4 linked regions of the Homo sapiens genome follow. The protein of the gene in region 3 purifies or fractionates together with the protein of the main gene of each other region. This does not show direct contact. Each region holds a gene or a part of one and is shown on either strand. Other genes may lie near its edges.

What was found.
Region 1: the proteins of RPL22L1 (region 3) and L3HYPDH purify together in Homo sapiens (affinity purification with mass spectrometry; 3 studies listed by BioGRID and IntAct, with this or other methods). This does not show direct contact.
Region 2: the proteins of RPL22L1 (region 3) and VMAC purify together in Homo sapiens (affinity purification with mass spectrometry; 3 studies listed by BioGRID and IntAct, with this or other methods). This does not show direct contact.
Region 4: the proteins of RPL22L1 (region 3) and GIGYF2 purify together in Homo sapiens (affinity purification with mass spectrometry; 2 studies listed by BioGRID and IntAct, with this or other methods). This does not show direct contact.

What each region holds. Positions count from the first base shown.
Region 1 is NC_000014.9:59,473,640-59,482,582, forward strand, and holds part of L3HYPDH (trans-3-hydroxy-L-proline dehydratase), read right to left. Parts: intron 5,713-8,943; coding exon 5,543-5,712; intron 2,576-5,542; coding exon 2,453-2,575; intron 2,368-2,452; coding exon 2,230-2,367; coding exon of another isoform or gene 2,155-2,229; exon of another isoform or gene 1,961-2,154; coding exon of another isoform or gene 1,925-1,960; exon of another isoform or gene 888-1,924; coding exon of another isoform or gene 876-887; exon of another isoform or gene 1-875. UniProt on the Homo sapiens protein: Catalyzes the dehydration of trans-3-hydroxy-L-proline to Delta(1)-pyrroline-2-carboxylate (Pyr2C). May be required to degrade trans-3-hydroxy-L-proline from the diet and originating from the degradation of proteins such as collagen-IV that contain it.
Region 2 is NC_000019.10:5,899,204-5,908,150, reverse strand, and holds the start of VMAC (vimentin-type intermediate filament-associated coiled-coil protein), read right to left. Parts: upstream 3,280-8,947; 5' UTR 3,261-3,279; coding exon 3,070-3,260; intron 1-3,069. Other genes in the region: NDUFA11 (NADH dehydrogenase [ubiquinone] 1 alpha subcomplex subunit 11), read left to right, coding at 4,443-4,539.
Region 3 is NC_000003.12:170,862,940-170,867,703, forward strand, and holds the end of RPL22L1 (ribosomal protein eL22-like), read right to left. Parts: intron 3,586-4,764; coding exon 3,441-3,585; 3' UTR 1,936-3,440; downstream 1-1,935.
Region 4 is NC_000002.12:232,692,515-232,701,747, forward strand, and holds the start of GIGYF2 (GRB10-interacting GYF protein 2), read left to right. Parts: upstream 1-4,816; 5' UTR 4,817-4,878; intron 4,879-8,070; exon of another isoform or gene 8,071-8,140; intron 8,141-9,233. UniProt on the Homo sapiens protein: Key component of the 4EHP-GYF2 complex, a multiprotein complex that acts as a repressor of translation initiation. In the 4EHP-GYF2 complex, acts as a factor that bridges EIF4E2 to ZFP36/TTP, linking translation repression with mRNA decay.

The sequences.
Region 1 (8,943 bases), on a different chromosome or scaffold from region 3:
AGTATAATAAACAGTTGGGATTAAGAGCGTTATATTCAGAAAGACATACAGGGTAGGTAGTCAGGGCAGGGATAAACATTTGGGAGTCATCATCAGTAGATGGTTGAGAACTGAAGCCTAGGAAGTGGATGAAATTGCCCAGCAGCATCAAACTGTAGAAGAGATGAGAAGGAAGGTGGGGATGAAGTGACGGTAACATCTAAATGGAAGGACAGGGAAAGGAAGCTGCAGCAGGGGAAGAAACTGAGAAGGTACCATCAGGGAGCCTGGACGGGCCCACACAGACAGGGAGAGAGCATGATGCAAGTGAAGACATTCTGGCAAGCATGATCAATAACTATAAAACAAGTAACTGGAAACATTAACTTCAGCATATCTTTTTATGTTCTAATTTTTAAAAGAATAATAACTGAAGCTAAAGGTAAAATGTCAAATATTGTTAGGGTATAATACTTTATCTTTTTATATCTTTTTATAAAGCTGCTGTAGTGTGACAGGTCCTTCACCAGGTTATGTAAGGGTGTATGTCCACTGCTTGAACCCTGAAGGCTGGGGGGTAAGCCAAGGGCATGGTGCCCAGCCAAGAAGCAGGTATCCCTGAGAACCCAAATATCCCAGAGAATATCTGGGAACATACCAAGGAAAACAGTCCTATCACACATACACAGTAGGCAAAGAGCCAGAAAATTAGCTTAAAAGCAGCTTAGAGTCAGGAGGCAGGATGGGTCTCCACAGTTGTTCAGCTGCTTCCCAGGAGTGCCTTATATGGAAGTTCTAATAAATGCATCTACTTGCCAACCTGGACTTGTCTGAGTCATTCTTTGGTCTCTCGGCTCCCTCTCTATTTGGGGGGACATTGCAATCCCAGATTCTTCTCATAACAGCTCCTATAATATAAAGCCTCATTGACCTTTTGCTTTGTCTGACAGCAATATAATATAATGCTTAACAGCATGTGGTCTGTTCAGAGACCCACCTTCATGACCTGGATCTGCTACTCACTAACTAACCTCTGGTAAATTACCTAACTTCTCCAATTCTCCGTTTTATCATCTATTGAAAAACGATAATAACAGCACAGTACTGACCTTGTAGGATTCTTGTGAGGATTAAATGAGATGGCATGTATCAAGTGCTTAGCTTGGAAACTGATGCACAGTGAAGTATCCAATAAATGTATGTTGTTATTTTTATGTTCCATTTCAGATTTTGAAGACAGTATGTTCCAAATTTTTGCATACAACATAAATGGTTTCACATGTTTCAGATCACTATATGATGTAGAGATCCTTAAGGAAACTCTAATATTCAGAAACACCAAATCTTAAAAACAGCTATATTAGGATAGATTGTTTGCTATGTTAAAGGACTCTTTATGAGTAGAATAATTTACTGAATGTAGATCATTCTGTAGTAGATTTCATTTACTACTGAGATAAGATTCATTACTTAGCTGTTAGCACATTTAAAATTTTATTCCATTACAAAAATTTGATGTTCCACAACTTTTCAGGGCTTTCACATCCTATTATATCAAATAAAACACTATTATAAAATAAAACAAAAAAACAAAAAAAAACCCCAAATCCTAATGGTTCTCAAACCTTTTGGTCTTAGGACCCTTTTATACCTTAAGATTTGAGGACCCCAAAGAGTTTTTCTTTATATAAGTTATATCTATCAATATTTACTGTATTAGGAATTGGATATATCTGTTCATTACTTCATTTTAAAAATAACCCATTATACATTAACATATGAATAACACATTTTTGTGAAAATAACTGTTTGCCAAAACAAAAAAAATTATGAGAAAAGTGGCATTGTTTGATATTTTTGCAAACCTGTTTCATGTCTGGCTTAACAGAAGACAACTAGGTTCTCATATCTAGCTTCTGCATTCAATTGGTTGGGTTATCACATATCACATCGTAGCCTCTGAAGAACCCCACTGTACACTCTTGAGAGAATGAGAGTGAAAAGCAAATAATGTCATTATTATGAACACAGTTTTGACCCTCTGAACCCATGGAAAGGACCTTAGGGGCCCGCTGGGGCCCCAAGACCACACTGGATAACCAATGTCCTAGTTGAAAAGAAGTTTTTACAGGCCTGCTTTAAAATTCTCTTCTGAGAGCTGAGTGAAGAAATTTATCAAACACCCAACTCAGGCCTCTCCAGTCTCATGAGTGACACATTTATAAATAAGAAGCTAAGGGTGCCACTTACCCTCACAGCTTTCCCTGTGAATACTGAGCCAGTTGCACTGCTTTTGAAGGCTCTCATCTGGTTCAGTTCCAGAAGCCCTTTGTGATACTGTAAGGCAATTCGGGCTGTCACTCCTGAGCCAGTGGGACTTCTGTCAACCTGTTTCAGAATAAATGAAGACAGAATGTTCATAGTGTGTTCCATATTACCTGGCTTTTGTCCCTAAACATTACAGTTTTAATACCTGTTCATCTGCAAAAACACAAATGTTGGTGGTTGGTTCCTTGGTATAAGCATCTTTTCCATCTGTTAATATAGTTCCATATAAAAAGGCAAGGTCTTCACTATCAGGATGATTAATTTTAAACTGCAAGTAACAAAAAAAGATCACATGCAAAATAAATATTTTGATTCAAATTTATAAATAATGCAGATGGGTCATTCTTAGACATAACTTTTTAATCCTTATCATTTTTAAAATACCTTTTTGGGCAACGTATACTAATTGCTAGAAATTATGTCTTTGTCTAGATGAAGAAACATAGTTTTACTGCAATTTATAATTCTTATCATACTTTGAGTCCCTTCTAAGGAAGCTGTCCTGCATATAGCCTTTGCTAAAAAAGCAGTCCTATTTTATACACCCCTCCCACCCCAAATACACATAGTCTTTGCAGCACTGACCCCAGGATGGTCAATCCACAGGCTGGCGATGGCTGCTCAAACAGGATGAGCTAAGGCAATCATAGTCTTATTCTCAGGAGCTTAAGGAGGATAATGTGGGAAAATCAGGCTCTGAGTATCTAGAGCTGAAGTTAACACCAATGATAGAGACAAAGGCTGTGAGAGGATATAACATTCTGTAAGAATGCAGAAACTATTAGGCAAGAGAAACAATTGGAGGAAAAAAAGATTTATTGTAGACGATGAAGTCAGTTGATTCATCAAAAAGCAGCAGATATGCACACAAAGAAGCAGGCACTGGCAGGGTAGCTAAGTCACTCAATGGTAGATTCAGGCCCAAATATGCAAAGCTACTTGTTCTTGGAAGTCTAGTTCTTTAACTTTTCCTGGATTTCTGCAAACATTTACAGTATGACTGAGATTGCTATAATCTGACTTCCCTTGTATATGCTTACAATTAGTACTTTCTACTTCCAGTTACATGTCATTTAAAGCAATGGAACAGCTTTGGGTTCTTAACATCCAAAGAGTCCATCTGAAACCAAGTTAAAGCGGCCTGCAGATTGAATCTTTGTTCTCCATCCTCTTAAAGTGATACGCCCCACCTCCACTATAGCACATTCCAACATAACACTGTTCACAGGTATGCTCGCTTCCCCAACTGGAGCTAGCTCCTCAAAGGTGGGGTTTGTTCTTTCTTCGAGTCTCCAGGATCTAGCAGAATGTCTAACATATATACAGTATGTTTGTGGTAAATGTTTGTTAAAAGAGTGAATGAATTAAGATGAATTTATATTAACTTTAACTCTCCATCCCCATGGCCTTTTCCTAAATCTGCTTCAGCAGTGTGAATAGTCAACAGTTCACAGAGTAATTAATTGTACTGTCTGATACATCAATAACAGAACTTGTCCTCATTTTTCTCAGAATCCTTCCTCCCTCAAAGTCCACCCCTTGCCATCTTGTTGAGTTCAAACTCAAATGAGAAGTACAAAATTACACCTTTTATTAAGATATCCATGACTTTTTCTCTTGAATTCATGAAAAATTAGGAGAAATTATTTTGTGCCAAATTGTTAACTCAGACTATTAGCTGTCCTGCTTAATGGAACAGAAAACTGATGTAAATTCAGAGCTTCAAAAGTTGCTATCATAATATAATTGCACATATTGGTACTGGCAGTACCAGAAAAATAATTTAGAATACTGATACAGTGTATATTCTCATTTTAAGTTATAAATTATTTTAAAATAAAGCTTCAGAAAATGATAATTATTCGTACATTAGACACTATCTTACACAAGTTACTTTTTACTACTAATAAATTCTCACATACTAAATTCTCACGTACTAAACATTCAAATACTGTACATGTGTTTTATTTATAGGTCCCAATTTCAAGGTAAAATGTGCTTCACTCGTGCTAGAAGTGAAAGAATATCCTAGAATTATTATCTAAACTGATTTTATCAAATTAGCTTTCCCAAGTAAAAACTAGAGTTATTTAAGTAGTTATTTGAGTAACTTCTTAGCAATGTAGGAAAAAAATAATAGGAATTAATGTTCTCTATGAAATAAGAAAAAGGCTTAAATCTATTCTGTACACTATATTTTACATTTATTATTTTCAAGTTTAACAGAATGACCACACACATGCATTTAAAATTTGCAGAATTCTATAAATATATTTCTACACATTTAAGGAACTATAAACTATATTAGTATGTATGTATTATTAAATTTAGTAACTGCTAGGTGTGGTGGCTCACACCTGTAATCCCAACACTTTGGGAGGCCGAGCTGGGAGAATCACTTGAGGCCAGGAGTTTGAGGCCATCCTGGGCAACATAGTGACATCCTGTCTCTATATAAACACACACACACACTCACACAAACACAGATTTAGCTGGGTGTGATGGGGCATGCCTGTGGTCCCAGTTACTCTGGAGGCTGAGGCAGAAGCATCATTTTGAGCCTGGGAATTTGAAGTTACAGTAAGCTATGATCACACCACTGCACTACAGCCTGGGTGACAGAGCAAGACCCTGTCTCAAAAAAAATAATATTATCATTTACTGAACATTTACTATTGGCCAGACACTACTCTAAGTCCTTTACATGTATTGACTTATTTCATTCTCACAACCCTACAAAGCAGGTATTTTTTAATTTCCATTTTGCAGACAGGAAAACTGAGGCATATGGAGGTTACGTAACTTGCCCAAGGTTATATACGTTACCAGTGGTAAAGCTAGAACTCATAGATAGTTTTGCTCTAGAGCAGGAATGTCCAATCTTTTGGCTTCTCTGGGCCACACTGGGAGAAGAATTGTCTTGGGCCACACATAAGATACACTAACACTAACGAGAGCTGATGAGCTAAAAAAAAATTGCAAAAAAACTCATAATGTTTTAAGAAAGTTTACAAAATTTGTGTTGGGCCACATTCAAAGCCATCCTGGGCTGCATGTGGCTCACAGGCCACGGGTGGGACAAGCTTGCTCTAGAGCCTAAGATTTTAATAAGTACCCTATTCTTAGTACTATTAATAATTTAAACATCATTTAATTTTCTTTATAGACATAATAATGTATATTTCCTCCATGCCACAGAGAAGGGAATTGGTTATGAAGGCAGAGTATTACTGACCTGAGCTTTCACTGCCTCTGTCACTGCACTCGCTGCATCCACAAGGTCCCTGGTCTTTGCAGAACAAATGTCTAGTCCTAACTTTTCAGCAGTAACAAATGCATAAAATGCACCGCCATATGCAATGTCCACCATCACCTTTCCATGTCCAGGAACATCCACCATGAGATCTAAAAAAAAGATGTGTTTGGAAAGAAGATGTGTTTGTTAATAAGTATTTTAGCAATAAAATTCAAAGGATTTTTAATATGTTTATTTTTCAAGAGGGATGTTCTTTTCCTATCATAAAAATAATGAAGTAAAAATCCGTTTTTTAAATGAATAAGCATCGAGTGAATAATAGCTAGATGCATCATTCTATTTTTAACTTGATGATTGCAGAAGTTATAAACTAAAGCCATGCTTTCCCTAACTCATACAGACATATTCATTAACTTCCCTGAGGATCTTTTCTAGGAAACACCCCTGAGGCCGAGAGAGGGAAACCCAAGGGCATCCCTGTGAACACTAAGAAGGAAAATGTCTATTCCCCACTTGTACTATGAGAGATGGTTTAAAATAGTGAGGGTCTTGGATCCTATTTACAAATCAATTTTCTTCAGCCGTAATGTCAAAACATAAATTTTAATAAAAGATTTTTCTATATAAATTATATACACTTATCTACATGTTTTCATCTCCTTAAGGTATCCTGCAGGCAAACACAGAAAAATGCCATTGTAGAATCATTGACTGCTACAGCATCATTTTGCACCAGGGTTTTTATTTGAGCATTTTAAGTCTCAACATCCCCAAAGTTTCACCTGAAGGTCAGTAGTTTGAAATCTTGAATCTGTATTTCCAAAGAAAGGGGGCTGGGTGATGTTTATTTCGCCCCTTCTCAAATTTTCCTCTTCCCTAATTTAAGCTAGCTTGGTGATCACTGCCTTTTAGGGAAGCCTATGGCAGGGGAGAAAGCTTGTCTTTCATGTTTTTATTTTAGGGAAGCCTAAGCTCTCAGGGGAAAGACATCTGTTGGCAAAGGAGTGTCCTGAAGGGAGAAATATTTCTCCTAGAGATAAATTTTTTCTCCCTTGAGAAGAGTGGAGGCTGAAGGTCCTTAGTGCAGAGAGGACGTGTGTTAACTTCCCCCAGGGCACCACAGGAGCAGGAGTGAAGAAACAGAGGATGGGGAGGCAGTGCAGAGGGCAAGGACCAGGTAGGGTGGGGCAGCCAATGCTCCTGCTCCACTTTGCTGGTTAACTGTGTAAGCTGAGGACTGAAGTGCCATCCTCTCCAAGGCCACAGCACTTTTAAGAAACCTTTGCTCACACATATCAGGAAAGGGGACAACACATGGAGTGATGAGGCTAAGTGAACCAAAAGGACAGAGTAGAGTTTCAGCTTCAGAAATTAAGTTTTGGGAAAGAAAATATATCTTGTGTTCCTGAGTTTTCATACAAGGTCATACAAAGATATCAGTATGCTATCAGTCCACAGAAGGCTATCAGTATGCTATTAGTCCACACTAGTCCACAGAAGCCCTTTTAACCCATGATGTGTTAAAACAGAGCAAGTTTATAATCAAAAGAGTAAAACATGCTGTGGATTGTAACAACAAAACTGAATAAAAAATGTCTTTATCTTGATGCTGGCGCAACATGAAAAGCAAGTTTAATGAAAAGAGAATGGGCAAGTTGATAGAAATGAGGGACTGCTGGAAGGTGGAAAGCTAAAGTGAGGGTGAAGATCAGCACTTACCAGGAGACACAGGTGACGGTCCCAGGGTTCAGTCGGCCTGCCCTCTTCCCTTGATTGTAACAACTAAATGGGGCATTGGCCACCAATCCCGGGACCAGGATGAAATTGGGAAGCTGGTTCAGGAGAAGTCATCCCTGAGCCTACAATCATTTCCCTGGCCCAACCTTTCTAGAATCTTGGGTCTGGTTTTCTTAGGGTGGGCAGTTGGGTAGGGTGCTACACCTCACTGAGTTTCAGTTTCCTTTTCTTTAAAATGGACCAAATTTCCTTTAAAGTTACTCTTGTCCACCAATTATCTGTGACTATTTCATTTTTTAATCACTAAATTACTAACATTAAAAATTAAGATATTTATTTCACCCATGAGTACTTCCTATGTGGCAGGTCTTTACATACACTAGCCCCTTAATTCATTACATTAGTGCCTTAATTACTACAGCCCTGAGAGGTAGGTACTGTTTTACTTACTATCTTTACATTATTCCCTGGTTTACCCACTAAATAAGTGGCAGAGCTTGGGGTCAAACCCAGGACCAGGTGACTCCAAAGCCCAAACCCTTTCTACTAAAATATACAACCTCTATCCAGAACACAATCCAAAATCTAAGGGTTTTTCTTTTCTTCTATACAAGCATATCACTGAAATTTCAATTTGATTTACTTTGCTCAAGATTTAGTGAGCACCTACTATGTGCCGATTACTGTAGAAGATACGAGAAGTACAAGGAATAAAACATAGGCTTTTCCCCTTCTTGGAGTTTAGTTGGACAAGACAGATTTTAAAATGCTTTAAAATACACTAAGCACTATTCTAGAAAATTGAAACATATCTCCTTAAACTACAAAAAATTTTAAGGATGAGAGGGAAGCAATATGATAGGCCAGGGTTCCAACCCTAGTTCTGCCATTAGTGTGGCTTTGGTGTCTTGTGCAAACTGTAACTGCTATTTCTCCTAAAAGAGTTGTTTTGAAAATTCCACGTATGGGGAGTTCCTGGCACAGATTAGGGACTCGAAAGCCAAAACTTTAATTTCCAGTGGCAATAGGTTTCTCAAGAGGACCAGATGTTTACATTTGTCAATCAGCATATTCTTCTCCAAATTTCATTTATTTAGTTACTCATTCAACAAACATTCATTGACTGACTACTCTTCTAGGCACTTAGAATACTGTGAACAAGAAAGAGTTTGCATTTTAGCCTGGTGGGGTGGAGATGAACTCAGCAACCCTCTGAGGTGGGTACTGTTGTCATCCTCATTTTGCAGACTGTGATACTGAGGCATGGACTCTCTAGCACAAGGTCACTGAGATGGGGAGAGGTGGGGCAGTGACCTTGAACACTATGTCTGCCTTGTATGCATTTTTCAAAGTAGAGAATATAGCATTTCATTTTCTTAACTCAGTGACCATTAATGCCCACTAATCATTGTACTGTCATACAGTGATGCTCTCAGGAACTACTGAGAGGAACTACTGAGGTCAAGTGGTTGACTGACCCTGCCCTAACTGACCCAGAAATGAGATGTAGTTTGTGTTCCTGCTGCCAGCTGCCATTTCCTACAGAAGTCTAGAGTGTTTCTACTCTGCTGCTGGAGTTGCCTAGGGGGAATTCTGGTAGCCACGCTAGTTAAACTGTTGAGGTTTTAAAAATGGAATCGTAA
Region 2 (8,947 bases), on a different chromosome or scaffold from region 3:
ACTGGTCTTAAACTCCTGACCTCAAGTGATCCACCCGCCTTGGCCTCCCAAAGTACTGGGATTACAGGCTGAGCCACTGTACCCAGCCTGAACTGCATCTTTCTGTCTCCCCAAAATTCATATGATGAAGTCCTAACCCCAATGGGAGGTGTATTAGTCCATTCTCACGATGCTCTAAGGACATACCTGATACTGGGTGATTTATAAAGAGGTGTAATTGACTCACATTTCCACATGGCTGGGGGTGGCCTCGGGAAACTTACAATCATGATGGAAGGAACCTCTTTATAGGGCAGCAGGAGAGACAGTGAGAGACCAGCAAAGGGGGAATCCCTTATAAAACCATCAGATCTCCCTTATTGATTGAGACGGAATCTAGCTCTGTCATCCAGGCTGGAGTGCAGTGGTGTGATCTCGGCTCACTGCAACCTCCGCCTCCCGAGTTCAAGCAATTCTGCCTCCTCAGCCTCCCCAGTAGCTGGGACTGCAGGCGTGTGCCACCATGCCCAGCTAATTTTTTTTTTTTTTTTTTTTTTTTTTAGTAGAGACAGGGTTTCACCATGTTGGCCAGGCTGGTCTCAAATTCTTGACCTCAGGTGATCTGACCGCTTCGGCCTCCCAAAGTGCTGAGAGTATAGGCGTGAGCCATTGCGCCCAGCCATCAGATCTCATGAGAACTCACTCACTATCATGAGAATAGCATGAAGGGGAAACCATCCCCCATGATTCATTTACCTCCCACCAGTTCCTTCCACACCACGTGGGCATTATGGGATTACAATTCAAGCTGACATTTGGGTGGAAACACAAAGTCTAACCATAGCAGAAGGGTATTTAGAGATGGAGCTTTTTGGAGGTGATTAGGGTTAGATGAGGTTGTCAGGGTGGGGGTCTCTATGATGGGATTAGTGTGCTTATATGAAGAGATACAAAAGAACTCCCTGGCTCTCTCTGCCCTGTGAGGACACAGAGAGAAGCCAGAAATCTGCAAGCCCGGAAGAGGGCCCTCCCATAACCTGACCATGCTGGCACCCTGCTCTCGGACGTCCAGCCTCCAGAACGCTGAGAAACAAACCTCTTGTTTAAGCCACTTAATTTATGGCATTTTGTTTTTTTGTTTGTTTGAGACAGAGTCTCTCTCTGTTGCCCAGGCTGGAGTGCAGTGGCACAATTTCGGCTCACTGCAACTTCCGCCTCCTGGGTTCAAGCGATTCTCGTGCCTCAACCTCCCGAGTAGCTGGGACTACAGGCGTGTGCCACCACACCCAGCTAATTTTTTTGTATTTTTAGTAGAGACAGGGTTTCGCCATGTTGGCCAGGCTGGTCTCGAACTCCTGACCTCAGGTGATCTGCCTGCCTCAGCCTTCCAAAGTGCTGGGATTACAGGCGTGAGCCACCACCCAGCCAGTTTATGGCATTTTCTTATGAGAACCCTCATTTCGTCCCCTCACTCTTCCTGCAGTTCGTTCCTTTCCATTATCTTTTCCCACCTATTCTTAGTAGGCTCTTCCTCTGGGAAGCCTTCACTCTGAGATCCCTCAGAGCCCCATATGCCCCTCCATCATGGCCGCTGGCCACCAATGATGTAACTGCCCAGTGACATGTCTGTCTCTCCACTGGACTGTGGATACCCAATGGGCAAGGCTAAGTCTTACTGATGTGCTCCAGTACTCAGCAGAATGCCTGACACACAGTAGGTGCTCAATGAAGACGAATGAATGAGTGCCTGGCACAGAGCAGGTGCTCGGTAAAAATGAATATGTCCAATTAGCTCTGAAGTAATAGTTCCCACCTGGGACCCAGCTCCTCCCACCTCCCTGGGTGCCTGTCTCATCTCTTTCATCCTCAGCTGTCAGAGGGACTCTTCAACAATGCTGATATGGGCCAGCATGGTGGCTCGTGCCTATAATCCCAGCACTTCGGGAGGCTGAGGCAGGAGGATCACTTGAGCCCAGGAGTTCAAGGCCAGCCTAGGCAACATAGTCTGACCCCATTTCTAAAGGATTTTTTTTTTTAAATCAGCCAGGTGTGCTGTCGCACGCCTGTAATCCCAGCTACTTGAGAGGCTGAGGAGGGAGGGTGAGACTGCAGTGAGTCGAGATCGCACCACTGCATTCCAGCCTGGGCAACAGAGCAAGACCCTCTCTCAAAAATAATAGATAGGCATGGTGGCTTAGCCTGTAATCCCAGCACTTTGGAAGGGTGAGGTGGGAGGACTGCTTGAGCCCAGGAGTTCAAGACCAAACTGGGCAACAGGGCAAAACTGTCTCTACAAAAAAATACAAAAAATAAGCCATGCGTGGTGGTGGACGCCTGTAGTCCCAGCTGCTTGGGAGACTGAGGTGGGAGAATCACCTGAGCTCCGGAGGTCGAGGTGCACTCCAGCCTGGGCATAGGAGTGAGGCCCTGCCTCAAAAATAATAAATTTAGGCCGGGTGCGGTGGCTCACCCCTGTAATCCCAGCACTTTTAGGAGGCTGAGGCGGGCGGATCACCTGAGGTCAGGAGTTAGAGACCAGCCTGCACAACGTGACGAAAACCAGTCTCTACTAGAAATACAAAAAATCGACCGGGCGTGGTGGCGGGCGCCTGTAATCCCAGCTACACGGGAGGCTGAGGCAGGAGAATCGCTTGAATCTGGGAGGTGGAGGTTGCAGTGAGCTGAGATCACGCCACTGCACTCCAGCCTAGGCGACAAGAGCGAAACTCCGTCTCAAAAAAATAATAATAAATTTTAAAAGTTAAAATGCTGATATGATCCCCTCCTCCCCTGCTGAAGAGCCTGCTATGGCTCCCAATGCCTACGCTGGGCGGTCTGTGGTCCCTGCGTCGCTCAGCACCTGTGGGAAAGTGGGCCTGTTTGAAGTTAGAGGTCCACACCTGTGTCACTTCTCGCAACTTTACATACTGATTACTAATTCGAGTTTTTTGGTGTTTTTATCAATCCGATACTCAGTCTAGCGTCTATACAAGTGCACACGGTTCCCCCTGCCCTTCCTCGCTTTCCAGCCTCGGCTCTGCCTCCGCCTACCGCCTCGGTGAAGTCCACCTGGCCGGCCCCGGGCCTCACCGGTCCTTGGCGCGACCCAGTTCGTCTAGGGCGGCGCGCAGCTGCTGGTCGTGGAGGGCCAGGCGCTCGGCTTGGGCGTGCACCGTGCGCTCCGCCGCGTCCAGCCGCGCCTCCAGCTCCGCTGCGCGCCGGTGCACGGCTGCCAGGTGTGCGTTTGCCTCCCGGATCTGCAGGGCCGGCGGCGCCGACATGGCCCAGGCTGCTGTACAGGCCCGGCCACGCCCCCAGGCGGCCCGGAACTGGCACAGGCCCCGCCCCCGGGAGGGCCCCGCCCCACTAGACCTCGGCGCGATTGGTCGCTGACCCCGCTAGACCCCACCCCAGAGGGCTGGGTCGTGCTCTCCTCAAACCCAAACACTACCACCGGTTCCGGGATCATGAAACTCCGCCCCTGAGTTTGGGCTCACTCTAGGATTGGACAAGATCTTGACAGCCACGCCCCCAGGCTGGCCACATCCTTTGGCGGCTCGCGCAACTCAGGCTCTGGAAACAAGATTGGTCACACCTTCGATACTGTCCCCTCCCTACTTGGAAGCTAACACCAGGATTGGCCCGGACTCCGCGAAACAGCAAGCCTGACCACGCCCCCCGAACCTGTGGCCTGTCAGGGGTAGATCCAGGCACGGCCTCGCCCCTTCATCCCTTATACAGTCTCAGATTGGTCAAGTCCCTTTTAGGTTATGCCTCCAATTCTAGCCACGCCCCCAAGTCAAGCGCCTGTGTACTTCATCCGGCCTAGGGCGTGGGACAGCCGCGGGGTGAACAGAGGCCACGTCCCGCTGAGCTTCTCGTATTGTCATTGGTCACTTTCCCGATAATCCCCGCCCCTGATCCTGTCCACGGCCCAAAACAGTAGCACGCTGCTCAGACTCCAGCTTGGTGACTGACCACAGGGCATGACCACTCGCTATGCAGATTCTGACACTGGGTGTGGCCACATCCCCGCCATGCCCCGCCCCCCAGTCATTGTTTCGTCATGTCTTGCTCCTATCAACTGGAGTCCCGCCCGTCCCAGTCTGAGCCCGGCCCCTCCCCTAGTAGATAGTCCCCGCCTCTAGTAGTCCCTAACCTAGGACTCCCTGAGCTGGGACTAGCGAAATCTGTCTGCACTGATCGCAGTCGTCCTCAGTTTCACCCTCTAGGAATCGGCCTGGGGATGCACGTGCTACTCTCTTCCTCCAGGCCGGTCCCCGGCGCGTGCGCGCGATCCATGTCCATGTCCGCGCCTATCAATAAAGTTGCTCACTTGTTGCCGGCCCGCTAGCCCGAAAGGTTGCGCGCGCAGCCCGAGAAGTCTCGCGATAGCCAGCCGCGGCTGCCCTTGCGCTTCCCGAGCTGGCGGGGTCCGTGGTGCGGGATCGAGATTGCGGGCTATGGCGCCGAAGGTTTTTCGTCAGTACTGGGATATCCCCGATGGCACCGATTGCCACCGCAAAGCCTACAGCACCACCAGTATTGCCAGCGTCGCTGGTGAGCGCCGGCCGGGCCCCGAGGGTGGAGGGCCGAGGCCGCAGGGAGGTCGTGGGGTTACTGGGGGCTGTTTGGATCGAACGGGTCTGGGAGTCTCGCGGGTACGCACGTGGTTGTCATCGGGGTGTCTTGGGCGGTCGTAGGGGGGGATCTTGTGTGAAATGGATGTTGGTAGGGGGTCCAGCAGGGTTGGGGAGCACTGGGAGGTCGTGACATGCGACAAGCTAGTCCCTGGGGTCATCTGAGGCGGTCCCAAGCTATCGCCAGGCTCGGGGAAATTGTGGAGTGAGACAGGGCTATTATCAGGTCCAAGGAGCTAAGGGACCACGAGACTTTCCAACGGGGTAGAGATTGTTAGAGGGGATCATGAGTCATGATTGGGGCATCTGAGGGCGGTACAGATGTTTGAGAAAGTTTTGGGGTGGGATGAGGTCTTTCTGTGGTCAGGGGGTGCTGGGTGGTTAGGGACACCTGAAGCTTTTACTGGGACCGCCAGAGAGGTCCTAGGTGAGGTGGATCAGGAGCTACTATGAGGGTAGCCTTGCAGGGGAATGAAGGGGACCCGCAAGCCCTGGCATTCTCCTTTTTTTTTTTTTTTTTTGAGACAGAGCCTTGCTCTGTCGCCCGGGCTGGACTGCAGTGGCGAGATCTCGGCTCACTGCAACCTTCACGTCCCTGGTTCGAGCAATTCCCTTGCCTCAGCCTCCCAAGTAGCTGGGATTACGGGCTCACGCCACCGCGCCTGGCTAATTATTTTGTATTTTTAGTAGAGACGGGGTTTCACCGTGTTGGCCAGACTGATCTGGAACTCCTGGTCTCAGGCCATCCGCCCATCTCGGGCTCCCAAAGTGCTGGGATTACAGGCGTGAGCCACCATGCCCGGCCGGCCCTGGCATTCTCTTATAGAGTAAATCTGAGTCTTGCCCCTTCCAGCCTGAGCGTTTCATGGGCATCATGCCCTTTAATTCTCAGCCACAGGTTGGGACTCATCAGGTCCCAGATGGAGCTGGAAGTCCTCTTCCCTCTGATGAAGAATCTTTACAAACTGGGCCAGGCGCGGTGGCTCACACCTGTAATCCGGCGCTCAGGAGGCCAAAGTGGGAGGATCGCTTGAGGCCAGGAGTTCCAGACCAGCCTGGGCAAAATAGCAAGATCCCCATCTCTGCAAAAAAGTAAAACAATTAGCTGGGCATGATGGTGCGTACCTGTAGTCCCAGCTACTCAGGAGGCTGAGACAAGAGGATCACTTGAAACCAGGAGTTCAAGGCTCTAGTGAGCTATGTTTGCACCACTGCACCCCAGCCTGGGCGACAGAGCGAGACCTTGTCTCAAAAAATAAAAATAATAGGCCGGGCATGGTGGCTCACACCTGTAATCCCAGCACTTTGGGAGGCGGATCATGAGGTCAGGAGATTGAGACCATCCTGGCTAACACGGTGAAACCCCGTCTCTACTAAAAATACAAAAAATCAGCCAGGCATGATGGCGGGTGCCTGTAGTCCCAGCTACTTGGGAGGCTGAGGCAGGAGAATGGCGTGAATCCAGGAGGCAGAGGTTGCAGTGAGCCGAGATTGTGCCACTGCACTCCAGCCTGGGCGACAGAGTGAGACGCTGTCTCAAAAAACAAAACAAAACAAAACCAGCCGGGCGCGGTGGCTCACGCCTGTAGTCCCAGCACTTTGGGAGGCCGAGGCAGGTGGATCACGAGGTCAGGAGATCGAGACCATCCTGGCTAACACGGTGAAAACCCGTCTCTACTAAAAATACAAAAAAAATTAGCCGGGCGTGGTGGTGGACACCTGTAGTCCCAGATACTCAGGAGGCTGAGGAAGGAGAATGGCGTGAACCTGGGAGGCGGAGCTTGCAGTGAGCCGAGATTGCGCCTCTGCACTCCAGCCTGGGCGACAGAGCAAGACTCCGTCTCAAAAAGAAAAAAAAAAAAAAACCCAAAGAAACAGTCTTTACAACCTGGTGTGTCTATAAGCTGAGGAATCAATTTGGTCAACTCTGTATTTCCAGCATATGTGAAACAGGGCCCGGCCAAAGTTGCGGCTCCATTGGGAGGCATTTGAATTAGGGCAGACCTAATCATCACTCCCATATTTTGCATATTTATTAATAGTAAGACAGACGTTATTGTGTCTCCATTTCTTACAGGTAGGGACTGAAGGTTGGAGAAGCATATTAACTGCTCCAGGGTCATTTGAAGCTGGGCTGCAAGTCCAGGTCGGCTGACCTGCTCCTAGGGGTCTCTGAAGCAAGGAATGTTCCCATCAGGTCCTTATCGAGGGTCTTCAAGAGAAAGGGCTGAAGGGGGCCACCCAGGGGATAGGATCTGAAACTGAGAAAGACGCGTATGTTGGTGTTCATGTGAGAGAGTGTGTGCATTCCTCATGTGTGAATACAAAATGAGTGGGCTGCGGTCTCAGGAGGCCTTTGGAGGAGACAGCTTGTCTCGGGGTGTGGTGCTGCTGAGTGAAGGGCCTCTGAGACCGGGGGTGCTCCCCAGAGGGTCTTAGAAGGGGAGGTCAGAACTTTTGACAGAGTTGCCATGTCAGGAGATCGCTGATGGCATCAGATTTAGATTTAGGGGTGCTCAGTGGCTTCTGTGAGCCCTCCAAGGGTGCCCCGGGGTCTTTGAGAGTGACATTCATTCTCCCTAAATTTTTCTTTTTTCTTTTTTCTTTTTTTTTTTTTTTTTGAGACGGAGTCTCATTCTGTCACCCAGGCTGGAGTGCAGTGGTGCGATCTTGGCTTACTGCAACCTCTGCCTCCCAGCAATTCTTGTGTCTCAGCCTCCCAAGTAGCTGGGATTACAGGTGCCTGCCACCGTGCCTGGCTAATTTTTGTATTTTTAGTAGAGACAAGGTTTCGCCATGTTGGCCAGGCCGGTCTCAACCTCCTGACCTCAGGTGATCCGCCCGCCTTGGCCTCCCAAAGTGCTGGGATTACAGGCGTGAGCCACTGCACCCACCCTTCTCCCTAAATTCTTCAGTGACCAGCTCCACTCATTGTGCAGAACTTGCTGAAACGTGTTTCTGGGTCCTCCCCTCACTGCCCCACTCACTTCATTCCGGGGCTCCCCTCACTTCTCATCTGAGGGAGATAAATTGTTTCCTGGCTGGCTTCCCTGAGTTGGGGACCCTGGACGGCGGGGAGACTATACTCAGCAGAGCCCAGGACCTGTGGGCACATGATAACTATGGATGAATGAATGAATGAATGAATGAAGCATCTTGTGGGCACCATTTGTGAGTGAATGAATGAGTGAATGTGGCACCTTGTTAGGTACTCGGTAACTTTGTGAATGAATGAATGAGTGGCAGTAGCTGAATGAATGAATGAATTCACACTGGGTCTGGCGGTCACTGTGGGAGGCTCAGAGGAAACCAGCAGTTTCCCTTCAGAGGGAAGGGGGCCTTTTGAAGGGCGCTGGGGGCTCCTGGAGGGGTGGATATGGCAGGACACCACAGCTGGATGACAGCTGGGGCAGAGTTGGGGTGGGGCAGTCCTTGACCTCTATGGGATAATCAGGGGGTCCCAGCTCGTCCACTCCCAGTTCAAGGACTTTGGAAGGGATGGAGGATGGTGGGCGCACTCACCGTGTCAGGTGTGCTCCATGAGCTAGGGGTCCCTTGGTCAGGACAGCTGGCATGTGGGGGTGGTGTAAGGAGGTTCCGCCCAGGAGTCCCTCGGTGACAGTTCTGGGGGCGTCACTGAGTCTTGTCGGTGGTTCCCTCTTGAGATGAGAGGGTTATAAGACTGTCATGGCTGGCCCAGCCCTGGATCAGGACTTTTCAGGTCCCAGGCAGGGCTGGCAGTCCCCTCCCATTAAGAATCTTCAAGTCCGGGCATGGTTGCTCAGGCCTTTAATCCCAGCACTTTGGGAGGCTGAGGTGGGTGGATCACCTAAGGTCAGGAGTTTGAGACCAGCCTGGCCAACATGGTAAAACCCCGTCTCTACTAAAAATACAAAAAATAATAATAATAATAATTAGCTGGGCATGGTGGCAGGCGCCTGTAATCCCAGCTACTCAGGAGGCTGAGGTGGGAAAATTGAACCAAGGAGGCAGAGGTTGCAGTGAGCCAAGTTTGCACCACTGCACTCTAGCCTGGGCAACAGAGCAAGACTGTCTCAAAAAAAAAAAAAAAAAAAAAAAGAGTCCGGGCGCGGTGGCTCACGCCTGTAATCTCAGCACTTTTGGGAGGCCGAGGCGGGCGGATCACGAGGTCAGGAGATGGAGACCATCCTGGCTAACACGGTGAAACCCCGTCTCTACTAAAAATACAAAAAATTAGCCAGGCGTGGTGGCGGGCGCCTGTAGTCCCAGCTACTCGGGAGGCTGAGGCAGGAGAATGGTGTGAACCCAGGAGGCGGGGCTTGCAGTGAGCCGAGATAGCGCCACTG
Region 3 (4,764 bases):
AGAAAATCTTATTTACAAAAACAGGCAGTAGTTTGGTAACTCTCCCATGACTTCAGTGCAGGCTCACAGCTTGATTGCCACCTCATGAAACCCTGAACCAGAGCTATGCAGATAAGCTGCTCCAATTCCTGAGCCTCAGGAAATGTGAGATATATTTCTTTCAAGTTGCTACACTTTAGTGTAATCGATAACTCATATACCATCATCCCACTCTCCACACCCCATGTATACCTCTTTTTACTTCTCTAATCTCTACTCTCCACCATTCATTCAGCTCAGGTCATAGAGGCCTCCTTGTTGTTCCTTGATTATACCAGGGGTGCTCGTGCCTTCGGGCCTTTGCACTTGCTATTTTTTATGCCTGAAGTACTTCTCCCCAAGACATCTACTTGGTTAGATTCAGTATCTCCTTTAGGTCTTTACTCAAATGAGCCTTTCTCAGTAAAGTGAGGAGGGGAATAGTGAGGATGTTCCCTCATCCTACTTATAAATGTAACACACCTTCCTTCCTACATTCCCTATTTCCTTTATTTTTCTTCATAGCATTTACCACCATGTAACATACACTTTATTTATTTTATTGTCTGTCTTCCTCCGCTGGATTGTAATCTTCATGAAGGCAGGAGTTTCCATTTTGTTTACTTCAGTATCCAAAACAGTACCTGGCCTGCAGTAGCCCTCAATAAATTTTATTATTTAACAAACCTCCCAACACCTTAAAGGCATGAATATCTTACTTGACATAATATACCCAGTCCCTGGCACATAATAAATATTAAATGCTAAATTAGCTTTCAAGAATTTTAAACATGTGAATATCAGATGTGTTTTTGAAAGATCACTCTAGGAAAAGAATGGAGGAAGCAATTGGTGTTTGTCAATACTTGATTCTCATTTGCTCTCTTTCAGAATATTCAGCCCTTCAGAATAAAGTCAGCTTCACGACTGTGAAGTCACATTCTCAAAATGCATAGTCTGATTAAGAGATTCTCTGCATTCTCATTCCTTCTTGTCATAGACTAACGAAATACTTCACTGTAATCTAAACTAGATCAGATCATGACATTTCTGTCAGGCAATTTCACCCATCCTCACTGTTCATTACTTCCTAAATGCAATTTAACCTTAAAATTTGCATTGTCCCTGTCCGATTTCCCAAAGCTACCCTCTTTCTCAACTTTGGGTTGCATAACTTACTGTGTGACTTTGGACGAATTACTTAACTCTATGTTCCTCAGTTTCCCTAGCTGCCAATGTGGATATTAATACTTATCTCAAAAGAATGTTATGATGATAAATGATTCAATTCATGTAAAATACTGAGAACAGGTCTGGTGCGGTGGCTCACACCTGTAATCCCAGCACTTTGGGAGGCCGAGACAGGTGGATCACTTGAGGTCAGGATTTCAAGACCAGCCTAGCCAACATGGTGAAATCTCATCTCTACTAAAAAAAATACAAAAGTTAGCTGGGCGTGGGATAGGCACCTGTAATCCCAGCTACTCGGGAGACTGAGGCAGGATTATCACTTGAGCCTAGGAGGTGGAGGTTGCAGTGAGCCATGATCATGCCACTGAACTCCAGCCTGGGCAACGAAGTGAGACTCCATCTCAAAAAACAAAACAACAACAAATCCATTCTCCACAATACAGTCTGATCTTTTTCAAAATGCATATCTCATCAGGTCACGTTACTTTCATTACAAGCTCCCATTGCCCTCAAGATGAAAACATGGACTTCAGTCCTGCATTGGCTAGCTTCTACTTTTCCAGATTATCCTCATGATCACATCTATTCCAGAATGTACTCTGGCCAACCAGACTCCCAATGCCCTGAGAACTTCAGAAGTGCTCCTCCCTCTGTCTGGAATGCCCTACTTTCCCCTTCCCAGATACTGCCTACCTTCCCTGTTCTATAAAGTGCTCACAAACTTCATTTGCCTTCCCAGATGAAATTCCTTTTATTAAGCCCTCCCTTTTGTAGCAGTAAATTTGTTCACATGTGATTTGATCAGTTTCCGTCATAATACTAACACAGCAGAGCAGGCTGGGTGTTTTTACTCATCACATACATCCTCAATGCTCTGCAGCGGTGCACAGTAGTAGGTACCTGGTTAACTATTTGTGAAAAACATGAAAAATGGGAACAATGGGGCAGAGCCAAGTTAGGAAGTTCAGTCATCCAAGAATCAAGGAGTTGCTGCACTGAGGTATTGCACGATGATGGGGGCACTTAAATTTTTAGGAAAACGAATTAAAACATTGAATTAAACAATAATTTCAAGCAATTCCCAAACCAATTAATGCATAGATTAGGTTGTAACTGTCCAGATATGTTTGGCGACACAATTCTATTAGCATCAAGACTCATCTAAGTACCTGAAGTAGTGGCACCACCATCAGGCTCAGCAGTACAAAAAGGCACATCATTCTTGTCCTCCCTAATCTCCTGCAGTATGGATTTTGCCAAACCATTTCGATTAGAGCTTTCAAAGGCCAGTTTATTCGGGAGAAAGGGTCCATCCACTTGTAAGTTTCAATAGACAACCAACACGCCGGTGTTGGGGTAGGGGCTTTTGAGAAAGAGATGAGGATGCTCTGAGACAAGATTCCAACCGAGTGAACTAATTTTTTCAGACAAGGACCACAGTAGATTCTGTAGCTGAGTTGAGATTTGGTTTTGAGTTTCTGGTGCCTACAAAGCAGGTGGTTAGGGCTTTCTAATAAGCAGTTTAACATTGGTTTACAGCAGGCCTCACACCCAGAGTCTTTGGGCTAACTATAAGAGCAAACTACAGAGCAACTTATATGTAAGAACTGTTCTAAGCACTTGAGATTACATTTACAAGCTATTAAAAACAGTATTTGAGACTGTCAAGACAATCATATACATTTTATACAGCTATATAAAAAATTGTTCTACAGTAAGATTTCCTGGCCGGGCATGGTGGTTCACAGCTATAATCAGCACTTTGGGAAGCCGAGGTGGGTAGATCACTTGAGGTCAGGAGTTTGAAACCAGCCTGGCCAACATGGCCAAACCCTACTCTACTAAAAGTACAAAAAATTAGCCGGGCATGGTGGCTCACACCTGTAATTCCAGCTATTTAGGAAGCTGAGTCACTGCACTCCAGCCTGGGTGACAGAACGAGAGTGTCTAAAAAAAAGATTTCCTATATAACGCTACTTTTACCTGAGTACATAAAAGATTTTGGAAATCGTGGGAAAAAATTATACCAGCTATAAGCTATTTAAATACTGTTGATAGTTATCAGAGGGAAATCAAAATCATATAAACAGCATACTCAAAAAAATGAGACAAAAGTTCAAGAGTATAATATTTTTTATTCACTGATAAACTAAAAGCCAATTTCTTGGTATTTCTCATGTATACTTCATTTATTTTATTAATAAGCAAAGCCCTGTAAGGGGAGCCTTTGCCTAGTCCTCCGACTCTGATTCATCTTCATCTTGACTAATCTGGAAGTAACGAAGTTCGTAGGTCTCCTTGTCAGATGCAACCACTCGAAGCCAATCACGAAGATTGTTCTTCTTAAGGTATTTCTTGGTAAGGTATTTCAAATACCTTTTAAAATAAAAACATAAATTTCATTAAGAAATACAATTCCTACTATGTAAAGGTTTACTATACGAAAAATATACATCATCATATTCATCTTTTCTGTACCTAGCTTCCTCCAAAATATTTCATCCTTCCATTCACAGGATGTATTGTGTAAGACTGTTAGGGTAGCATCCTCTTGTCATACTGCCACACTATATATTGTTCAAGATTGTTAGGGTAGCATTCTCTTGTCAAACTGCTACAGCCAAATTATTTAAGCAATATGATTTCACTCTTCAAATATATTATCTGTGTATATATATGTGAAAACGTTAACACCTCCTTCACCACTATCAAGCCCCCTAGCTCCCAATCCCACCCCGGCTCAACAGGCAACCTATTAATAATAGGGTTAAACCCATACTATGCTCATTAAGTCTCAACTTCTCTGAAAATTCTTGGGCTCTCTCTACATCTAATGTAACTAGAGTTGTATTTTACAATAATTATCTGATTATCTGTAAGATACTTGATTTACAGCTACTACAGCTACTACATTTTTATCTCTGAATCCTTAGTGATTATAATCTCAGTTAACATGTACTGCAACCACTTTAGTCCAAGCCATCATTGTCTCTCACTGAAATTAGCTCTTACATCTTCAGTTTCCACCAGATGTATCACCCTAGTCTTTTTCAGCCACAATAAACAATTGCTTCCCATTACACATCCCATGGCTTTCAAGATCTGCTCCCCAGACACCCTCCAATCTCATGCATTCCTCCCAGAACACTATACCCCAGACACACTGGCTTTGTTACTATTACTTTAATCTGCCAGGCTTCTGGTTCATCCTGCCTGTAACAACTGCAAGGCTCACTTCTGCATTTCATTTCCTGACCAACTTACCAACGTACCCAAAAACTCTGCAACTAGTTTTATGCCCTTACAGCACTTATCACTGCTTGATTAATTCCATTTCACTCTCTCTTCTCCACTAGAAGTTTCTTGGTGGTGGGTAAACTGCCTGCTTGGTTCACTGTTGGGTTACCCAGTCCTGTGCTGCCCATGTAGTATTTAATATTTGGTGAATAAATTCAACAAATAAAAACTGGCAGCAAGATGTTAAGACTTTGACTTTAACTGGCTACCTCTACTGAATAAATAACTTGAGACAATTCTCCTATGTACACATCAGAC
Region 4 (9,233 bases), on a different chromosome or scaffold from region 3:
CAGTGGCACGATCTCGGCTCACTGCAACCTTCGCCTCCCACGTTCAAGCGATTCTTACGCCTCAGCCCCCAAGTAGCTGGGATTACAGGCTCGCACCACCACGCCTGGCTAATTTTTGTATTTTTAGGAGAGACGGGGTTTCCCCATGTTGGCCAGGCTGGTCTCAAACTCCTGGCCTCACTAAGTGCTGGGATTACAGGCGTAAGCCACTGTGCCTGGCCTAAAAACATTTTTTTTTTTTAGAGATGAGGTCTTACTATGTTGCCCACACTGGTCGGGAACTCCTGGCCTCAAGCAATCCTCCTGCCTCAGCCTCTCAAGTAGCTGGCATTAGAGGTGCGAGCCATCTGCACCAAGCATGGGGAACACAGTTCAATCCATAACAATGATGTTCCAGCTACTGTTGCTATTAACAAATTACCCCAAAACATAGTGGCTTAAAACACCCATTTTATGATGCTGATGGATTTGGTGGATCAGGAATTCAGAGAAGGCACAGTAAGGATGCTTGTCCCTGCTTCATGATGTCTTAGGCTTTGATGTCTGAGGGTGACTAGACAGCTCAGGGCTGGGATCACCTGGTGAGATTTTTCACTCAGACGTCTGGTTGTTGATGCTGTCAGCTGGGACCTCAGTTGGGGTTAGTGATGGGACAACAATGTGGGCCTCTCCATGTGGTTTACGCTTCAGGCAGCTTCAGGGACTGCCAAACTGTTTTTGCTTCAAACAAGACTGTTTCAGGAAGCAAGGTGAAAGGCATATCACCTCATGATCTAGCACTGAAGTCATGTCATTTTACTTCTACCACTTTCTATTGGTGATAGGGTCCAAGGGACTGGGAATTAGACTCTACCTCTAGAAAGGATAGTGAAGGTGCTAGAAAAGTAAGTCAAATGGAAGATATTGTTGCAGCCATCTTTAGAAAAATACAATCTGTCACAGGTGATGACCCCTGGCAATTTTTTTTTTGAGACAGGATCTTGCTGTGCTGCCCAGGGTGGAGTGCAGTGGTGTGATCCCAGCTCACTGCAGCCCTGACCTCCCAGGCTCAAGCAATCCTCCCGCCTCAGCCTCCCAACGTGCTGGGATTACAGGTGTGAGCCACCTCGCCTAGCTATGTGCTCATAACAAATTAAACTTGTTTTGGATTAAACTCCTTACCCTCCTCCCATCCTCAAATGATCTATTATTCTCAACTTCTGTTTCTATCAGTGGTGTACTACGGCTAAAACTTTATTATCCCTGACAAAAGCATGCATCAGTCTACGTTGTAATTTAATACCACTATTTAGTGAAACACTGGAAAGACAGAGTTACTAAAAGGAGAAAAGGAAAGCACCCTTCCTGAAGAGTAGATAATCAAGAATCGATTGGGTTTTATTGGTGTTTGTTGAGCATTTACTGTGTGTCAGGGCAATACCAGCTGCAGAGGTTGCTGGATGGAATAATGCAGCACTCACAATGGTTAAAAGCTGGGATTTTCTCCAGCTTTTTTTTTTTTTTTTTTTTTTGAGACAGGGTCTCACTCTATCACCCAGGCTGGAGTGCAGTGGCACACAATCTCAGTTCACTGTAACCTCTGCTTCCCAGGCTCGAGTGATCCTCCCACCTCAGCCTCCCAAGTAGCTGGAACTACAGTTCTACATTATCATGCTCAGCTACTTTTTTTTGTATTTTTAGTAGAGATGGGGTTTCACCATGTTGGCCAGGCTGGTCTTGAACTCCTGAACTCAGGTGATCTGACTGCCTCAGCCTCCCAAAGTGCTGGTATTACAGGCGTGAGCCATCGTGCCTGGCCACTTGTATATATTTGTCTCAAGTTGCAGAACTGTGCACTAAAAGTGCTAAATTTTATTGTGTGCAAATTATATCTTAATTTAAAAAATATATGTATAGGCAATGTACAGGTGGCATGGCATCAGAGAGGTGGCATGACAAGTTGGTTAGGGACATGGGTTCTACAATTTGCCAGCCTGGGCTTGGAAATCCTGGTTGAGATTTGGATATGGTAAGCACTTCTCTCAGAAGCCTGGTTGGATTGCTCCATAGCGCTCTTACTAGGATCACATGAGACAGTGCAAGGAAAGTTTTTAATGGGGTGGTCAGTACATAACAAGTATTAGTATTACTTTTTTCCTTAAAAATAACAGCTCAAGGGGTAAATTCTTTGGTCTAATGGAGGCACAGAGGCAGTAACACATGGACTGGCAGGAGTTGCAGGTTGGGGAGAAGTGGGTAAGTGTTGGGAACGGCATTGCAGCAGGATGGAACAGCATGTGCAAAGGCTAAAACATAATGTCATGTTTACGAATCTTTTAACATGGGCCTATCTGGAGCACTTAGTTCAGGGGGAAGATCAAGGAGAAGAGAACAACATGGATGATGGGTAGAGTTCTTTTTGATTGTTTGTTTTAGATACAGGGTCTTGCTCTTTTGCCCAGGCTGGAGTGCAGTGGCATGATCATAGCTCATTGTAGCTTTGTATTCCTGGGCTGGTGATCCTCAGCCTCCCAAGTAGCTAGGACTGCAGGTGCACGCCACCACGCCTGGCTAATTATTATGTATTTATTTTTTTTTAGAAATGGGATCTCTCTATGTTTTCCCAAGCTATGGGGGTAGAATTCTGCAGAATGGGACTGTGAAGGGCTCCTTTGAGTTTCTGTATTTCTAACAAGTCTCCACGTGATGTTGATGCTACTGTACCACTTTGAGCGGTAAGGGTATAAAAGTCAAGGGAAGAAAGTGTTTCAGAAGGCCGGGAGCGGTGGCTCATGTCTGTAATCCCAGCACTTTGGGAGGCCGAGGTGGGCGGATCACCTGAGGTCGGGAGTTCAAGACCAGCCTGATCAATATGGAGAAACCCCGTCTCTACTAAAAATACAAAATTAGCCGGGCGTGGTGGCATATGCCTGTAATCTCAGTTACTTGGGAGGGTGAGGCAGGAGAATCGCTTGAACCTGGGAGGCGGAGGTTGCGGTGAGCGGAGATCACGCCATTGCACTCCAGCCTGGGCAACAAGAGCGAAACTGTCTCAAAAATAAATAAATAAATAAATAAAGTGTTTCAGAAAGTAGGAAGAGGCCAATCATATTGAAGACAGGGAAACACGAAGTCAAGATGAGGACTGAAAGACTCCAGTTATCAACCTGTAGGATGGGGTGTTCTTAGGGCAAGCAATAGGCAGATAGGAAAGGACAGAAGCCACATCGGTGTGGTTGATGATTGCATGCCAGGTGTGGAAATGGAGAAAGTGCATATAAACAATTCTTTGGTGCAGCTTGGCTTTGAAAGGGAACAGGGTCGCAGGAGGGAGAATTGGTGTTTTTGATTGTTTGTTTGTTTATTTGTTTTTTTCGAGACGGATTTTCACTCTTGTTGCCCAGGCTGGCGTGCAGTGGCGCGATCTTGGCTCACCGCAATCTCAGCATCCCGGGTTCAAGCGATTCTCCTGCCTCAGCTACCCAAGTAGCTGGGATTACAGGCATGCGCCACCACGCTCGGCTAATTTTGTATTTTTAGTAGAGACGGGGTTTCTCCATGTTGGTCAGGCTGGTCTCAAACTCCCAACCTCAGGTGATCCGCCGCCTCGGCCTCCCAAAGTGCTGGGATTACAGGCGTGAGCCACTGCCCGGCCGAGAATTGGAGGTTTTTGTTTTTGTTTTAGACGGAGTCTTGCTCTGTCGCCAGGCTGGAGTGCAGTGGCGCGATATCGGCTCACTGCAACGTCTGCCTCCCCAGTTCAAGCGATTCTCCTGCCTCAGCCTCCCGACTAGCTGCGACTGCAGGTGCGTGCCACCACGCCCGGCTACATTTTTTTTTGTATTTTTAGTAGAGACGGGATTTCACCGTGTTAGCCAGGATGGTCTGGTCTCGATCTCCTGACCTCGTGATCCGCCCACCTCCGCCTCCCAAAGTGCTGAGATTACAGGTGTGAGCCACTGCGCCCGGCATGAGAATTGGAGTTTTTAACATTCCATTTTAAGATGGGAGACACAAGTAATCTTTAAAGCTGACAGGAAGGATCCTGTAGGAAGGAAGAAGTTGGAGACACAGGCAAGAATGGGATGCCTAAGGATAGAGTTGCTAGATTTAGCAAACACAGGACGCCCAATTAAATTTGAATTTCAGAAAAACAACGAACAATTTTTCAGTGTGTGCCCCAAATATTGCTGGGTGTCTTGTATTTTATCTGTCAATTCCAAAATAGTTCATCTCTAGGTAAAAGGGTTATAGCCCCAGATGTCCTAGGAAGGAATCAGAGCTCTCAAGTCCTTTCCAGCTGTCCCAGTACAACACTCTGAAATGAATTCCCAGTTCTACCAGAACTGTTAACAAGTAGAGAAACTGCTTTGAATTTCAGCTTTTGCGGCTTTCCCATTCGCTCTAGGATGGCAACTGCGAAGAAAAATGCCGGACTAAAAGCTGTGGAAAAGTTCTAATTTGGAAAACCAGCCCGCAAGTGATGCAGAGGCTTTTGAACTGCAAAAGAGCTCTGGGCGTACAGGACAGTGAGTCACACGGTGCCTGGTCCGGGCCCAACCCTGGACACCAACACCACTCAACTCAAGGGCAGGTACCCGGCTGCTGCCAAGGGGTCAGCGGGAGCCTGCGCACTGCCACGGCCCCGCCCTCTTCCAACCTTTCATCCGGGTCTCGGGCAGGGGCGTGTCTGGGCAGAGGGGCGGGTGGTGGCGGAAAGGAAGGATGTCGTGGGAGACTGGAGAGTGGGGAGGGAAGCGGGAAGGGGCGGGGGCGGAGCAGGGGGCGTGGCGGAGCGGGAGCGCGGTCACGTGACGTGCGTGGCGACGTGTCGGCCATCTTGTGTTGTTGAGGCTGAGGACTGACTGGGGTTCTGAGACTCCCTGTCCCGGACCGCAGGTAACCAGCCGTTCCGTGTCGCTCCCCTGCCCGGCTCTGCTCCGCGCCCCGGCCCCGCCGCCGCGTCCCGGGCCGCCTGTGTCTCCGGTCCGCGTTCGCGCCCCTGCTCCTCCTGCCCGAGCTGGCCCGGCCGCATGGACACCCACAGGCCGCTCCGGCCGGCTTGGGCCGTCAGGCGACGGGACAGGTCAGGTGCAGGGCCGGAGGGAGCCTCCTCCTGGGCGAGGGGCGCTGAGGGCCCTGGCGCGTCACGGCCGCGAGGAGCCGAGAAGCCCCTAGGCCAGGGCCTCTTGGCATTGCGAGGGGAGCCGAACAAGGCAGGAGGGTTGTGGGGTGGGCAGTGTCAGGCCGGCTTGCTCGGAGCTGGAGGGCTCGCCTTCCTCTGCTTGCTTCTCCGCGCCAGACACCCGCCCAGTCTCGGGGTGGCCCGGTAACAGCTGCTGCGGCCAGACAGCTGCTCCTGCCGGCTCTCCTGTCCACACCTGGTCCCTGGGAGGTGCGCTCCTGCCTTCCCCACAGAGCATCTGGACGGAGGAGACTCCTTCCGTGGCGAGAGTACTGGGTCTGGACCAGGCCTGAGGCGAGGTGCAGCCACCATGATCGGAACCTTGGGACCGAGGCTGGGAAACTAGAGCCCATGGCAGCCTTGGGGACCCAAATGTTCACATCAGGTTGAAATGGGCATTATCCTTAAGTGTCAGTTTCCAAAAGCACTCTGAATACTTGTTTTGCGACTGAAACATAAATCAAGCGAACAGGGAATGGGGGCATGAAAGAAGCGGAGCGTATGACCGTGTTTGGGAAGCAATAACGTTGTTTTGCAGTTAATTATTTAGTACTGTGTTTTTTATTTTGTTGTTTTCGTTTTCCTGCAAGTCAAAGCACTTAAACACACGTAGTCTCTCTGTAAGAAAGGTAAGTATTCCAGTTTAACTTGCAAGAAATTGAGTATGGGGCTAGAAGCTGTGAACAGCTTCCTTTCTAGAGCTACATACATTGAATTAAGGCAGTTTTGATTCCCAATGTTGTGCCTGGGGAAGGTATTCTTTCTTTATATAGTATGTCCTTTTTAGAATCAAATGACTTCCTAGATTAGAAAAAAAAATTCTGTCATTCTTTCTGTACATTAATTTTGCTCCTTCTAATATTTGTAGCTTTGGCCTTATTTTGTCCATTTTGCCTAGAACACAAATACTTTCTCTTATTCATTGATGGTTTTACGTGTTTTACTAGTTGGTGTAGCAGTTTCTGATGTGCTCAAACTGGAATATGTACTTGGCTTTTACATCAGATGTTGACAACAGAAGAGGACACTAGAAAAGTATTTAAAAGTGGCACGTAACTGGAAAAATGTCACATGATGTTTCTTTCGAAATTTAACATCAAGGAATACACTGGTGATGGTAGTGCTTCACCAGAAAGGAGAGGGCTTCATGACTTTTTGGTACCTGACAGCATTTGAGACTCTTGAGGTTTGGGAGGGAGAAGGAACCATGTGCTTCCATTCATTTGTTTATTCATTCATACATTCATTTATTTGACAGATACCCTGTTGAGCACTTACTACACTGTTAAGTACTGGGAGCAAAACAGACCAAACAATTCCTGTCTGTATGGAATTCATTTCTAGACAGATAAATAGGTAAAATACTTGATGTAGTGGTAAGCGATGTGAAAGAAAAAAATGAGTCAGGGAGATAGAATAATAGGGGTTTGGGGAGGGGTTAATTTTAAGTGCCCTGAGAAGGCCTCATGGAGAAGCTAACACTGGAGGAAAAACCCAACAGAGGTGAAGGTGCTGTTTCTTTAGCTATACTGGGGTAAAAGTGCTCTAGGCTAGGGAGCAGCAAGAGCAAAGACCCGGAGACAAAAGCTTAGGAGCGATTCAGGAGTAGACTGGGAAAAGCATGGAGGCTAGCCTAGGCTGAGAGGCTAGGGTGAGTGGGAGACTGGTGGGAGATGTGTGTACTTACTGTTTGGTACTAAGATGAGATGGATTATTTGCTATCCTGAATTCTTTTTTCTTATCTCTTGTGATTCTTGGAAAGGGAAATCAGATTCTGGAAATTTGGGCCAGCAGCCAGCCTCCCCAACCCCCTTAACTCCCATCCCCATCCGCTAATTTGGAAAAATTTAGGATGCTCAGTATTTCAGGAAATTATAATGAATTATCTTTCTCAAAAGTAAACGTTTTAAAATGAGATTGATGATAAACTGCTTGAAAGTACTTTTCAAAAGCAATTGCTTTACAAGAAGGAGGCTCTTTGGAGATTTCAGGATATTTGAAAATGTAGGGAAATTAGAAATTTTCCTTTCACATTTAGACACATGATTAAGGAACATACCAGGAAGAAAGGTGGAAACAATGTATTAACTCAAATTATCCTTAATCTGGTTAGTAAAGAATTTTTCTTAATACTGTGCTGTCCAGCCCGGAGACTCTTCCTCTAATTCATGTGTATATCCTTCACATTTTACACGTGTAGAACTTTTTGTGCTGAGTTTTTTATTCCTCCACTTTTACCTTTCAGACTAGTTGTCTAGTCTGATACTTAATAGACATATTTTTTTGCAAAAAACATTTTCTGATTTCCTTCCAGTTTATCTCCATATTCTTTTTACTGAGCTTTCATAAATGTCCTCTTTCATTTTAGTTCAGCTGAGGAATTTTAATATTTTGGTTTTGAAATGCTTTTGCTGGTGAGATGCATATGTGAAAAACACTTTGGAGTAGGTTTGCCTCAAAATCATGAGAAGATGGAAATTACAAGGTCAGTGTGTGAATGCAACTCCTTGGCTAAAAGGGAGGCATAGTGATGGTAGTGATGAGGTAGTGTTTTAACTAATTGCCTTTCTTCCTCTTGTTTTTCTATTGTGTTTTTGAAATGACATTTCCAAATTATGTCTTTGATGTCATATCAGCTCATTTGTTTTCATGACTCTGCATTTTAATACTCCATATTGTCTCTTCTCTTTTTGTTGACCTTCACATTGGAAGATGACACTGTTGATAGTGATTGCTATCTGGGAGAACCTTTTTGGGTAAAAAGATTACTACTGTCGCTTTTATGATTGCCCTTCTGTAGGATCTTTGACTTGTGCCATTTTCAAATTTTGACTTTGTTTGCAGTTCTCCATTAGCTCCTGCTGATTAAATTTCCCATACTTTCTGTTTTATTCTATTTCTTATAGATTATAGTGGGACCAGTCTCATTAGGTTGAATCTACAGCCTATGTTGGTGTTAACCCAGGTCTCTTAGAGGCAAGTTAAATGTCCATTTTCCTTCAGTTTAAATTACCATGGCATATTGTTTGGTCATTGTTGTAACAGTCTGAACTCAAGCTTTTTTTCACTGCTTGATTCCCACTAGGGTTTTGTGGTGATAAAGTCCTATGGTTTTTGCATGGGAGAGTATTTAAGAATAAAAGGAAAAATATATAAAATGAAAAAGAAATAGAAGTTTAAAATAAGATAAAAAAGTCCTAGAGTTTCCATTCATTTTTAATACTTTGAAAAATTACATCTCTTTAAAACTAGAGATTTTTATTTCATGTATAAACTTGCTTATAGTTAGCATTGCAGTGTTTCTTGACCAAATATTGTTTTTACATTTTATTCATGCTCTCAGATGAATGAGAAATATACTAAATTAATTATGTAGGAATGTAAAGTGATACCTTTATTGAATTGCCTATAGTTTTGTGTGAGGTTGAAAGCAGAAAGAGGTTTGAAAAACAAAGAATGTTCTCTTAATTGACCAAACTTCATTTTATAAAGGTATTTCAAAGTATTACATACTTCCCTACTTTAAGTAAATAAGGAACACAATTTTATATTTTCTTGTTAACTATGGGGTTTCATTAAGCTTAATTATTATTATTATTTGAGATGGAATCTCACTGTGTTGCTCAGGCTACAGTGCAGCGGCCTGATCTTGGCTCACTACAGCCTGTGATAGAGCAAGACCCTGTCTCCTGGGGGTTTGGGGTTGCAGTGAGCCGTGATTGCACCGCTGCGCTCCAGCCTAGGTGATAGAGCAAGACTTTCTCCAAAAAAGACAGGGTCTTGCTCTGTCACCTAGGCTGGAGGGCAGCGGTGCAATCACCACTGACTGTAACCTCAATCTCCCAGGCTCAAGCCATCCTCCCACCTCAGCCTCCTAAGTAACTGGGATTATAGGTCCATGCCACCACATCTGGCCAATATTTTTTGTAGAGATGGGGTCTCACTATGTTGCCTAGGCTGGTCTTAAACCTCTGGTCTCAAGTGATACTCCCGCTTCAGCTTCCCAAAGTGTTGAGATTATAGGCATGAGCCACTGTGCCCCACCAAGAATGCAATTTGAGAAAGTCAC